Linked DNA regions of Homo sapiens. The protein of the gene in region 1 interacts with the protein of each later gene in a biochemical or structural test. Each region holds a gene or a part of one and is shown in the gene's direction. Other genes may lie near its edges.

Region 1 (3,600 bases):
TCTCCCTGGGGCTGGCGACAGTGGACATCCAGAACCCTGACATCACGAGTTCACGATACCGTGGGCTCCCAGCACCTGGACCTAGCCCAGCTGATAAGAAACGCTCAGGGAAGAAGAAGATCAGCAAAGCTGATATTGGTGCACCCAGTGGATTCAAGTGAGAGCCACTCCCCAGTGGACCCACAGATTCCTGGGGGCAGAGGGGCACATGAACAAGTGGACAGCTGAGTGAATGGAAGGATGGGCAGATGGGCAGATGGCTGGGTGGCTGAGTGGGTAAATGGGTGGTTGGATAGGTAGGTGCAGGGCTGGGTCTAGGGAGAGGTAAATAAGGCACCAAGGGTACAAAATTTAAGGAGGCACTCACTCTCAGAGGCATGCAACTGTAATTCCTGACTCTCAGAGTGAGTGACTCACTTAAATTTTGCACCCTAGGCACCTTACTTGCCTCACCCTGGGCCCACTCTGGGTGGGCTGTTAGGAGAGCAGGTGGGTGGGCAGGTGAACAAATGGATAGATAGATGAGGTAGATGATGGATGAGAAGGGCTGGTGGGTAGGTGGGTGAGTGGATGGGTGGATGGATGGATAAATGAATGGATGAATGAATGGGTTGAAGAATGAATGGATAAGTGGTTGGATGGACAAGTTTATGGGTGGATGGGTTGATGGGAGGTGCGTGGATAGATAGATGGGTGAGTGGATAGGTGTGTGGACAGATTGATATGCAGGCTGATTGGCTCACAGACAAGGTGGATGGGGATGGACAGGTGGACAGATACGTGGATGAATGGACAGTTCAATGGATAAGTGAACAGAAGTGTGTGGTTGCATGGGTAGAAAAATGAGTGGATGGATAGATGGAAAGGTGGGCACATGGGTAGGTGGATGGGTGGATGGACAAGTGTGTGTGAGGACAGACTGGTGGACAAATGGGTGAACAGACATATGTGGGCAGATAGTTGCAGAGACAGATGTATGGACAGATCAGTAGTCCAACAGATGAATGTGAATGAATAGGTGGACAAATGCATGGGATAGATGGGGAAAGAGGGATGGGTGGATGGATCAGCACCACAAACTATGGAGCCCTTCTAATTCCATAACTCCTGCCTATACTCATTCACTCATTCAGTCTCATTCATTAATTCTGGCCCCTCAGAGTCTCTTTGGGCAGGAGAGGGCAAGAGGGTTTCACTATGAAGGGAGGGAAGGAAGGGCAGTGAGGATTCACTGGAGTCTCTTCACCTCTCCCAGGCATGTCAGCCACGTGGGGTGGGACCCCCAGAATGGATTTGACGTGAGTAACTTCAGAGTCTCTTGGACTCCACTAAACTTCCACCCACCCTTCCAAAGACCACTGCTGAGACCCCACCCCCAGATCGTGCCCTTCCCACACCCCTCTCAGATCCCTTGCTGGGATGGACCCAACGACAATCCATGTCGCTTGTCTCCTCGCCTTATTCCTCTACTCCTGCCCCTGGCCTTTTTCCTCCTGGGCAGGTGAACAACCTCGACCCAGATCTGCGGAGTCTGTTCTCCAGGGCAGGAATCAGCGAGGCCCAGCTCACCGACGCCGAGACCTCTAAACTTATCTACGACTTCATTGAGGACCAGGGTGGGCTGGAGGCTGTGCGGCAGGAGATGAGGCGCCAGGGTGAGACCCTGCTTCCATACGCTCCCTTCTCTAGCCCAAGCAGCTCATAGCTAAGATACGCACTAAGTCACTCAGTCCTTATGGGAGCACCTATACTGCTTCAGTCAGGAGTTGGTCAGTGGGGGTACCCATTTTACAAATGAGCAAAACTGAGGCTCAGAAGAAATCAATGAGAGTTACAGCTATGTGTTATACCCCCTCCACAGAGCCACTTCCGCCGCCCCCACCGCCATCTCGAGGAGGGAACCAGCTCCCCCGGCCCCCTATTGTGGGGGGTAACAAGGGTCGTTCTGGTCCACTGCCCCCTGTACCTTTGGGGATTGCCCCACCCCCACCAACACCCCGGGGACCCCCACCCCCAGGCCGAGGGGGCCCTCCACCACCACCCCCTCCAGCTACTGGACGTTCTGGACCACTGCCCCCTCCACCCCCTGGAGCTGGTGGGCCACCCATGCCACCACCACCGCCACCACCGCCACCGCCGCCCAGCTCCGGGAATGGACCAGCCCCTCCCCCACTCCCTCCTGCTCTGGTGCCTGCCGGGGGCCTGGCCCCTGGTGGGGGTCGGGGAGCGCTTTTGGATCAAATCCGGCAGGGAATTCAGCTGAACAAGGTGAGGACAGGCAGGATGGAGGATTGGGGGTCTAGGACTCTGGGGTGTCCCGTCTAAGTCAGGATACTGGGGGGCTGAGGCCAGGACTGAGGAGAGTGCCAGGCCTTAGGGATTCAGTGATAGGGTTGAAAGGTTGGTGGGAAGCCTTGAAGGGGACTGGAGTGTGTGGGAGAGAAAATATTGATGGAGGGGCGGGGAGAAATGCTCCTTTCCCAGGCCCTAAGCCCTCTGTGCTGATCCCTGCCTGCTGCAGACCCCTGGGGCCCCAGAGAGCTCAGCGCTGCAGCCACCACCTCAGAGCTCAGAGGGACTGGTGGGGGCCCTGATGCACGTGATGCAGAAGAGAAGCAGAGCCATCCACTCCTCCGGTGAGCTGATCCTGCCGGGGCCTCAAACCTGGCTCCCAGGGCTAGCACTGGCCTCAAAACAATCCCAGCAGTCACCACCAATAGTGACATCAGCCCCATCTGTTTGACAGCATTAACATGAATCTTGTGTCAGCCTCGTTTTTGACAATGTTAACATTAAGTCATTATGTGACAATAATATAATTAACTCCAACTTTGACAGTAATATTAACATTAATGCCAGGGTGTGTCCACAATATTAATGTCATTCCCACATGTTCAGTACTATTAACATCAGCTGGCCGGCGCGGTGGCTCATGCCTGTAATCCAGGAACTTTGGGAGGCTAAGGCAGGAGGATCACTTGAGCCCAGGAGTTCGAGACCAGCCTGGGCAATATAGTGAGACCTCGTTTCCATAAAAACTAAATTCAAAAAAAGTAGTCAAGCATAGTGGTGTGTGCCTGTGGTCCCAGCTACTTGGGAGGCTGAGGTGGGAGGATTGCTTGACCCTGGGAGGTCAAGGCAGCAGTGATCCATGATTGTGCCACTGCACTCCAGCCTGGGTGACAGAGATCCTATCTCAAAAAAAAAAAAAATTAACCCATTATGTGATGACAATATTATGAAGAACACTATTGTTGACAATATTAATTTTAATTCCATGTATTAACAGATTTACATTAATTCATTATGACGTAACCTAATCTAATCTTTTAAAAAATTTTTTTGAAACAGGGTCTCGCTCTGTGTCCCAGGCTGGAGTACAGTGGTGCAATCATGGCTCAGTGCAGCCTCAACCTCCCAGGCTCAAGCGATCCTCCCGCCTCAGCTCCCAAAGTAGCTGGGACTACAGGCGTGTGCCACCATACCTGGCTAATTTTTGGTGTTTTTTTGGTAGTGATGAGCTCTCACTACCAAGCTCTCACTACTCTCATGTTGCCCAGGCTGCTCTGCAACTCCAGGGCTCAAGCGATCTGCCCCGCC
Region 2 (3,833 bases), on another chromosome or scaffold:
CCTCCTGAAGTGCTGGGATTACAGGCATGAGTCACCGTGCCTGGCATAGCTATTTTAATTTTTTATGCATGGAATTTGTCCCCAGAATTGGCTTGAGTTAAAAAAAATACGCAGAGATTCAAAAAGGTAGCATAAAATCATGCCTGTCAAATATATAGTAGATTAAAAAGGAGAAGGTAAACATTTGGGAGTGCATTTCTAACTTTTGAGGTGGGTTTAATGGAGGGGACTACTTATATATTCTCTTGATATTGCCATTAGCAACTGCCTCCCTCTTTATTGGAAATAAAATATTGGCCACGTTGGGAGAGCTCTTTTTTTTTTTTATGGTCTTATAAATTCAACAGGAACTTACTGAGAATGTCTGGGCCTGTCAGATATGTGCCAAGGAGTCTTTTAGGCACTTCAGGGGATAATCCAGTGGGAAAAGAGTGTGGCACTGGAAATGGGTCAAGTGTGTTTGGAGAAAGGCCAGTATGTGTGTGACCTGATGGAAGTGGTAGAAAATAAGGTGAGGTGGGTAGGGAGGGCTCTTTGGGAAATAAAATGTAAATTCTTGCATTAGTCAGTGTTCCTGGGAGTATTTTTGAATTGATGATGGTGTGAATTCCTCCTTTTTTTTTTCTTTTTTGCAATGGAAATCCTCTTCTTTTTAAAAGAGTACAACATTCAAGGGCTGTATATGAGTTTTATGAGGCTTATTGCATCAAGGAATTATATCCACTTAAAAAGGAGGTAGTTTTAGGCCGGGTGTGGTGGCTCACGCCTGTAATCCCAGCACTTTGGGAGGCCGAGGTGGGTGGATCACGAGGTCAGGAGATCGAGACCATCCTGACTAACACTGTGAAACCCCGTCTCTACTAAAAAAAAAATACAAAAAATTAGCTGGGCATGGTGGCATGTGCCTGTAATCCCAGCTACTTGGGAGGCTGAGGCGGGAGAATCGCTTGAACCCAGGAGGCAGAGGTTGCAGTGAGCTGAGATTGTGCCATTGCACTCCAGCCTGGGCGACAGAGTGAGACTCTGTCTCAAAAAAAATATGTAAATAAAAATAAATAAAAAAAGTTTTTTTGACCAGGTATGGTGGCTCATGGCTGTAATCCCAGCACTTTGAGAAGCCAAGGTGGTCAAATTGCTGTATCTCCAGAGTTTGAGACCAGCCTAGGCAACATAGTGAGATCCCTATCTCTATAAAAAGTAAAATTAGCTGGGTGTGGTTGCACATGCCTATAATCCCAGCCACTTGAGAGGCTGAGGTGAGATGATCACTTGAGCCCAGGAGGTTGAGGAAACAGGGGAAACAAAGCAGCTTCTTTGCTGTTCTTTTATTATGAGGTTTAACTGACATTGCCTTTTATTATAAGTTCCAGTGAATAATCAAAGTGATGCTTTGGCTAGCCATGTTTAATTTTTCTTAGATTTCTAGCTGTCTAGTATCAATAGGCATTTTTCCAGAACACACAGTATATGTTATTTGTAGTATATTCAAAACTATCTAAGTTGAAAAAAATAAAGAATTGTACAGAGCTTTAAGAACGTGTTCTGCTGGGTGTGGTGGCTCACGCCTGTAACCCCAGCAGTTTGAGAGGCCAAGGCAGACAGATCACTTGAGGCCAGGAGTTCGAGACCAGCTTGGGCAACATGGCGAAACTCTGTCTCTACAAAAAAATTACAAAAATTAGCCAGGCATGGTGGTGCATGCCTGTAGTCCCAGCTGCTCAGGAGGCTAAGGTGGGAGGTATGACTTGAACCCAGGAAATGAAGATTGCAGTGAGCCTAGATTGAGCCACTGTACTCCTCCAGCCTGGGTGACAGAGCCAGACCCTGTCTCAAAAAAAAAAAGGAAAAAAAAGTCCTGTTTTTCAGTCCTCAGTCTCAGGGTCTGTTTCTTCTCATCTCCTTGGACAGCACATAATAGTAGACTAAAAGTCTTAAAAGAGAACACTCGCTTTAATACTTATGCATTAGAAACAAACTGCAAAATAACTAAATAATAAATTCTGGCTTCTAGTTGGTTACGTTTCTGTTTTGGCTTCCCTACTGTATTTGGAACTCGCTGGCTTTGGTTTTCCTGATTTGACTTTTTATTTAAATCCCCCTGGCTTTTATGCAGGTTTATTGACTGGTGTAGTGGTAGACTCTGGAGATGGTGTGACTCACATTTGCCCAGTATATGAAGGCTTTTCTCTCCCTCATCTTACCAGGAGACTGGATATTGCTGGGAGGGATATAACTAGATATCTTATCAAGGTAAGTGAAAGGAAAATATCATGGAAATTAAATTTTGTAATTTGTTTACCACCTTAACACAGAATTGAATCTATCGTTTTAGGATTCCAGCAAATCTGTACCACTAGAGAAATTATCCAATTACCTCCCTTATTTATATAAAAATTCATATAAGATTTATACACATGAAGAAAAAAGAAGATACATTAAAAACAAGGAAAAAAGTGTACACACATGATCTCTGTATACTAATGAGAGTACATTATATCATTACATAATTATATTTGTTATTCCTGAGGAGTGAGTAGACAGATATTTCAAGGATAGAAGAGACCCCTAATTTGAAACTTTCTTGGACAGCTCAGGCAGCCTTTTCTGCCATAAAACCTTTCTTTGAGCAGGTATGTTTTAAGCCATGATCTTGGTTGGGTTGTCTGCTCTTGTCCTTTCCTACAAAATACAGTGATAGCAAATTAATGATATTTGAGGAAAACAGCCCAAATACGCCAGACTTTAATATTTAGTAGTTTTCATGGAATAGATGCAGTTTTTAATATTTACTATTTTAGTTTATTTCTGAATATAACTAGTTATAATTTTCTTTAAAACATTACTGGAGAAAGTACATAAGGTGTCTACTTGCTAACATATATCATTTTTAATATTAAAATAAAATTTAGAAAATTGTTTATACCACAATTCTATAATCAGTCTATCCTCTCCAGGACAGTGGTTCTCACCAGGGGACAGTGCTGTCCTCTGGGGGATATTAGCAATTTCTGGACACATTTTTGGTTGTCTGAGCTGGGCAGGAATGCTACTGAACATTCTATAATGAATAGGGCTGGCTGCACAACAAACAATGTATAGTCTGTCAGTGGTGCTGCTATTAAGAAACCCTGTCTCTGCATTAAATTGGGTTGCACTGTCTTTACCTTGACATTGGGTTCCTTCAGTCTCATTTAAAGTAATCCTCCTCATGAGGGGAGATTAAATTAATGAGAATTATAATACTCTCATTTTAGGCCAAAATTCAAAGCGTAACTAACAGAATTTCTGGGGTTGTCTTTAGAACACAGACTCAAATATTAGAGGATTTTTTTTTTATTTGTAAAGTCTAGTAATTTTTTTTCTCTCAGTGGGTTTTTAAAAAAATAGTAGTATTTTCTAGCATTTAAGAAATGTAACAATGGAGATTATACCTTTGAGTATCCCAATAATTCCCTTATCATTCGTTAAACAAATGCTATTGTCCTTCTAATATGTGCCAGACACAGTACTAGAAGCTAAAGATAAAACTTTTAAAGACTTGGGGGCATTTCATAAATATGGCATTAATTGTGTGAGCAAACTGCAGGCTACAGGAGTCCAGTACTAAAATAATATTTATTCATTAATATACTTTTGATTGTTTATCAAAACTATCAAAACATTAGTACTCATGCAGTGCTTTTCAAAAACTGACTTTTCTAGTCATTTTACTGACTTACTTATGAATTGTTAATTCTTTTACCCTCTCTGAAACTGAAATATAAATCCTTTTATGGCGGATAAAATCCTGCTTCTGAAATAGTAGGAGCTGAGGATCCACTGCCCATTCTGTT
Region 3 (2,817 bases), on another chromosome or scaffold:
CAGGGATGGAGATGGGAAGGTTAGAAAGGCAGCCCTCACCTCTGAGGACAGAGGCCGGGGTCCAGGCCCGTGGGCGCAAAGGTGCCTCATAGCATAGCCAGCATTCAGCACACACAAACCTACTGCCCACATTTGGGCTCAGGGTTGGCCATTTGCTAGTTCTGCTGCCCTCTTAAGATCTGACTGCCAAATAAATCATCCTCATGTCCTTTTTCCTTTGACTTGTATGCTCTTTCGGGGGCTCAGGAAAGCCTGTTGCATGGGACATGCTCACTAGAAACAGTCGCCAGATGATTATTCTGCAGTAGAAGCAGGTAGGAAATTTCTGGAAATTTCTCAGGTTAAGCAGCAAGAGCTGTAACCCCTCCTCTGGGCTAACAGGAGTTGTGGGTCCACTCTCTCCTGCCCACCCTCTGAGGGTGTGTCTGAGCAGAGTACATCCTGCCTGGGTTCTTTGTGGCCAGCCAGTTTTGGTGGTGAGCTGGAAACAACCAGAGCCCCTTTCCAGTTCCACAGAAACCTCTCCTTTCAAAAATGTTGCATTCAGTTCGTTAACACTGCCAGGTGCCATTCTGATTGCCTCTAGGACTTGGCAGCTGAAATCTCTGGGCCCTTTCAACACAGTTGAAAGGCCCTTCTCTTCCTGAAGCTCTGTTTCCATAGTTGGCTGTGCTGGGATGGAACAAAAATGACGCCACACAAAAAATTTAAGATAGATCCGGTTCCGTGGATGACATGAACTGATGATAGCCAGTATCAAACAGCGATAGTGCTCAGGTTCTTGTGTGACTTTCTTTTACAGCTTCACAGTCCCAGTTCATAGAGAGGAGGGTGGCTTTTTCCCATACACAAGAAGGTGGTGGGTGGGAATTCACCTGGGCCCTCATGATCCATGTTTCCTCTCTAGGTTTTTATGGCCTGGAGAGAAAGGTTTCCTATCAGAGAAGGAAGAGGACTGTGTAGGCCCTTCTGTTAGGGCCCATCCACGTTGGTTAGGACGTCCTTGGCGTGTTTGTTAGTGTTGACCCTTTTAGTTTTCATCAATACGTATCTCTATTTGCTGAACAAGTGTCTTTCTGGAACACAACCTGGGGAACAGACAGCTCTGCCTTTCTTAAGGCAGCTTTGTAGACCTGAGGCTCACCTCTCTTGGGCTCTGTAAGACATTGCCTTTGCCTCACTGCAAATGTTTTGATTGTTCTTCCTAGTGGAAAACGTGCCAACTCTCAAGCAAATTTAAAGATCATTTTCACTTCAAGATTCCTCCAGACCTGACAAATGTTGATTGACCCAGAAGGCAGAGTGTTTGTTGGTGGGGAAGACCCTTACTTGGGGCCGAATGCTTTGGCATCAGGAGTTGTTTGCCCCATCCCATGCATGCAGGCCGTGTCCCTACAGTGCGACAGCTCAGGGTTATGACCTGTGGAGTCTCAACCCTAACAGCACATTAGCACCACTTGGGGAGCTTCTGAAAAATACTGGTACCCGGGGCCTTAGCATAGGTATTGTTCAAAACCTCTCAAGGTGATTTAAATGAGTAACAAGGGTTGAAAAACCCTGATTTTGGCAGCACAAACCAAAAGAGCAGGCAGGGCCGGGAGAGGGAAGTCAGTGGTACCAGAAGGTAGATGGGCTCCCTTGCAGGCTCCTTGTTCTCCTGCCATCACCAGTAGAACCTTCTGGCTGACAGACCAGGGACAAGTAGACTGGGTTCAAAGTGACAGACCTTTCACTTTCAACAGCTTTGGCTCAGCAGACATGTACACATACAAAGTAGAGCCTACAAGGTCAGGGGCATTCTGCCCCCGCCACAGGACTAAAGACTGCCCTGCGGGAAGATGGCAGGAGCAGTTTCTGACCTCAGTTGAGTATCTGTGGCCATGAGCAGAAAAGGCAGGGGTCTGCCTCCTGACCAAGCACATCTTGAACATCACCTGAGAGCTTGAACATCACTAAGGACCTAGACACTCACTTGTCTTTCAACTTGAGCCCATCACTCACCATGTGAGTTCTGTTGAGGGTGGGTAGAAAGCAAATAGGTTCAGGTTATCCCACCAGACTAACTCGGTGAATGAAAGGATCATGCCTTCTTCACATTTTAATTAAATGGATCAAGCACAGTCTCAGACTGCAACTCCTGTCTTCTCTGGGTACTTTAGTAATTCCCAGGGGACTTGTGCTTAGGGGTTAATCTAGGCATTCTGTTCCCTGCCTGGAGGAACCCCACAGCAACCCCCCTGGCTGGCCGCTCCTGCGAATTCCACCCATAGTATCCCAAGTGAGTCACTGCCTGAGTCTACCCACTACAGCATTCAGCTGATTGGCTTTGCCAGTTGCATGCCAGTTTGGTCTAGTTTCCAAGGACCTGGTTTTTGGGATTCAACACACACAGCTGCTTCCCCATGACATAAGCTGGACTCCTATTCTGGTGTCCAGAATCACTGCCTGGCTCCACTGTAGGTGATTTCATTTCAAAGGACCCTTTTTCCTTCTGTCCCAGGCCTTCAGGGCCACCCCAACAAAATTCAAATGCTTTGGGTCTTAGAAGCTGGGGCTTTAGTCTTTTTCCTCCAGAAAGCCCCTGGGTCCTTATGCATATTCCCTAACCCCCGACACCGCCCCAGCAAATGACAGGCTATGCTTTTCAGCACTCTCACAGGAAACAGAAAAGAACTTGCCAGTGTCCTCTCACCAGATGATACCAGGTTTGACTGTTTGCCTTTGTCTATTTAGCATAATTTCTAAAATATCATAGTTTTCTCATGTAGAAGCCAGTGTGGTGATCTCAGCAATGCAGAAGACAGTGAGTTGGAACTT

The links.
Region 2: the proteins of WAS (region 1) and ACTR2 form a complex in vitro, tested with the Homo sapiens proteins (one study listed by BioGRID).
Region 3: the proteins of WAS (region 1) and PLCG1 form a complex in vitro, tested with the Homo sapiens proteins (2 studies listed by BioGRID).

What each region holds. Positions count from the first base shown.
Region 1 is NC_000023.11:48,686,799-48,690,398, forward strand, and holds part of WAS (actin nucleation-promoting factor WAS), read left to right. Parts: coding exon 1-157; intron 158-1,255; coding exon 1,256-1,298; intron 1,299-1,501; coding exon 1,502-1,655; intron 1,656-1,861; coding exon 1,862-2,268; intron 2,269-2,521; coding exon 2,522-2,636; intron 2,637-3,351; coding exon of another isoform or gene 3,352-3,600. UniProt on the Homo sapiens protein: Effector protein for Rho-type GTPases that regulates actin filament reorganization via its interaction with the Arp2/3 complex. Important for efficient actin polymerization. Possible regulator of lymphocyte and platelet function.
Region 2 is NC_000002.12:65,251,615-65,255,447, forward strand, and holds part of ACTR2 (actin-related protein 2), read left to right. Parts: intron 1-2,113; coding exon 2,114-2,250; intron 2,251-3,833. UniProt on the Homo sapiens protein: ATP-binding component of the Arp2/3 complex, a multiprotein complex that mediates actin polymerization upon stimulation by nucleation-promoting factor (NPF).
Region 3 is NC_000020.11:41,175,507-41,178,323, forward strand, and holds the end of PLCG1 (1-phosphatidylinositol 4,5-bisphosphate phosphodiesterase gamma-1), read left to right. Parts: 3' UTR 1-2,120; downstream 2,121-2,817. UniProt on the Homo sapiens protein: Mediates the production of the second messenger molecules diacylglycerol (DAG) and inositol 1,4,5-trisphosphate (IP3). Plays an important role in the regulation of intracellular signaling cascades.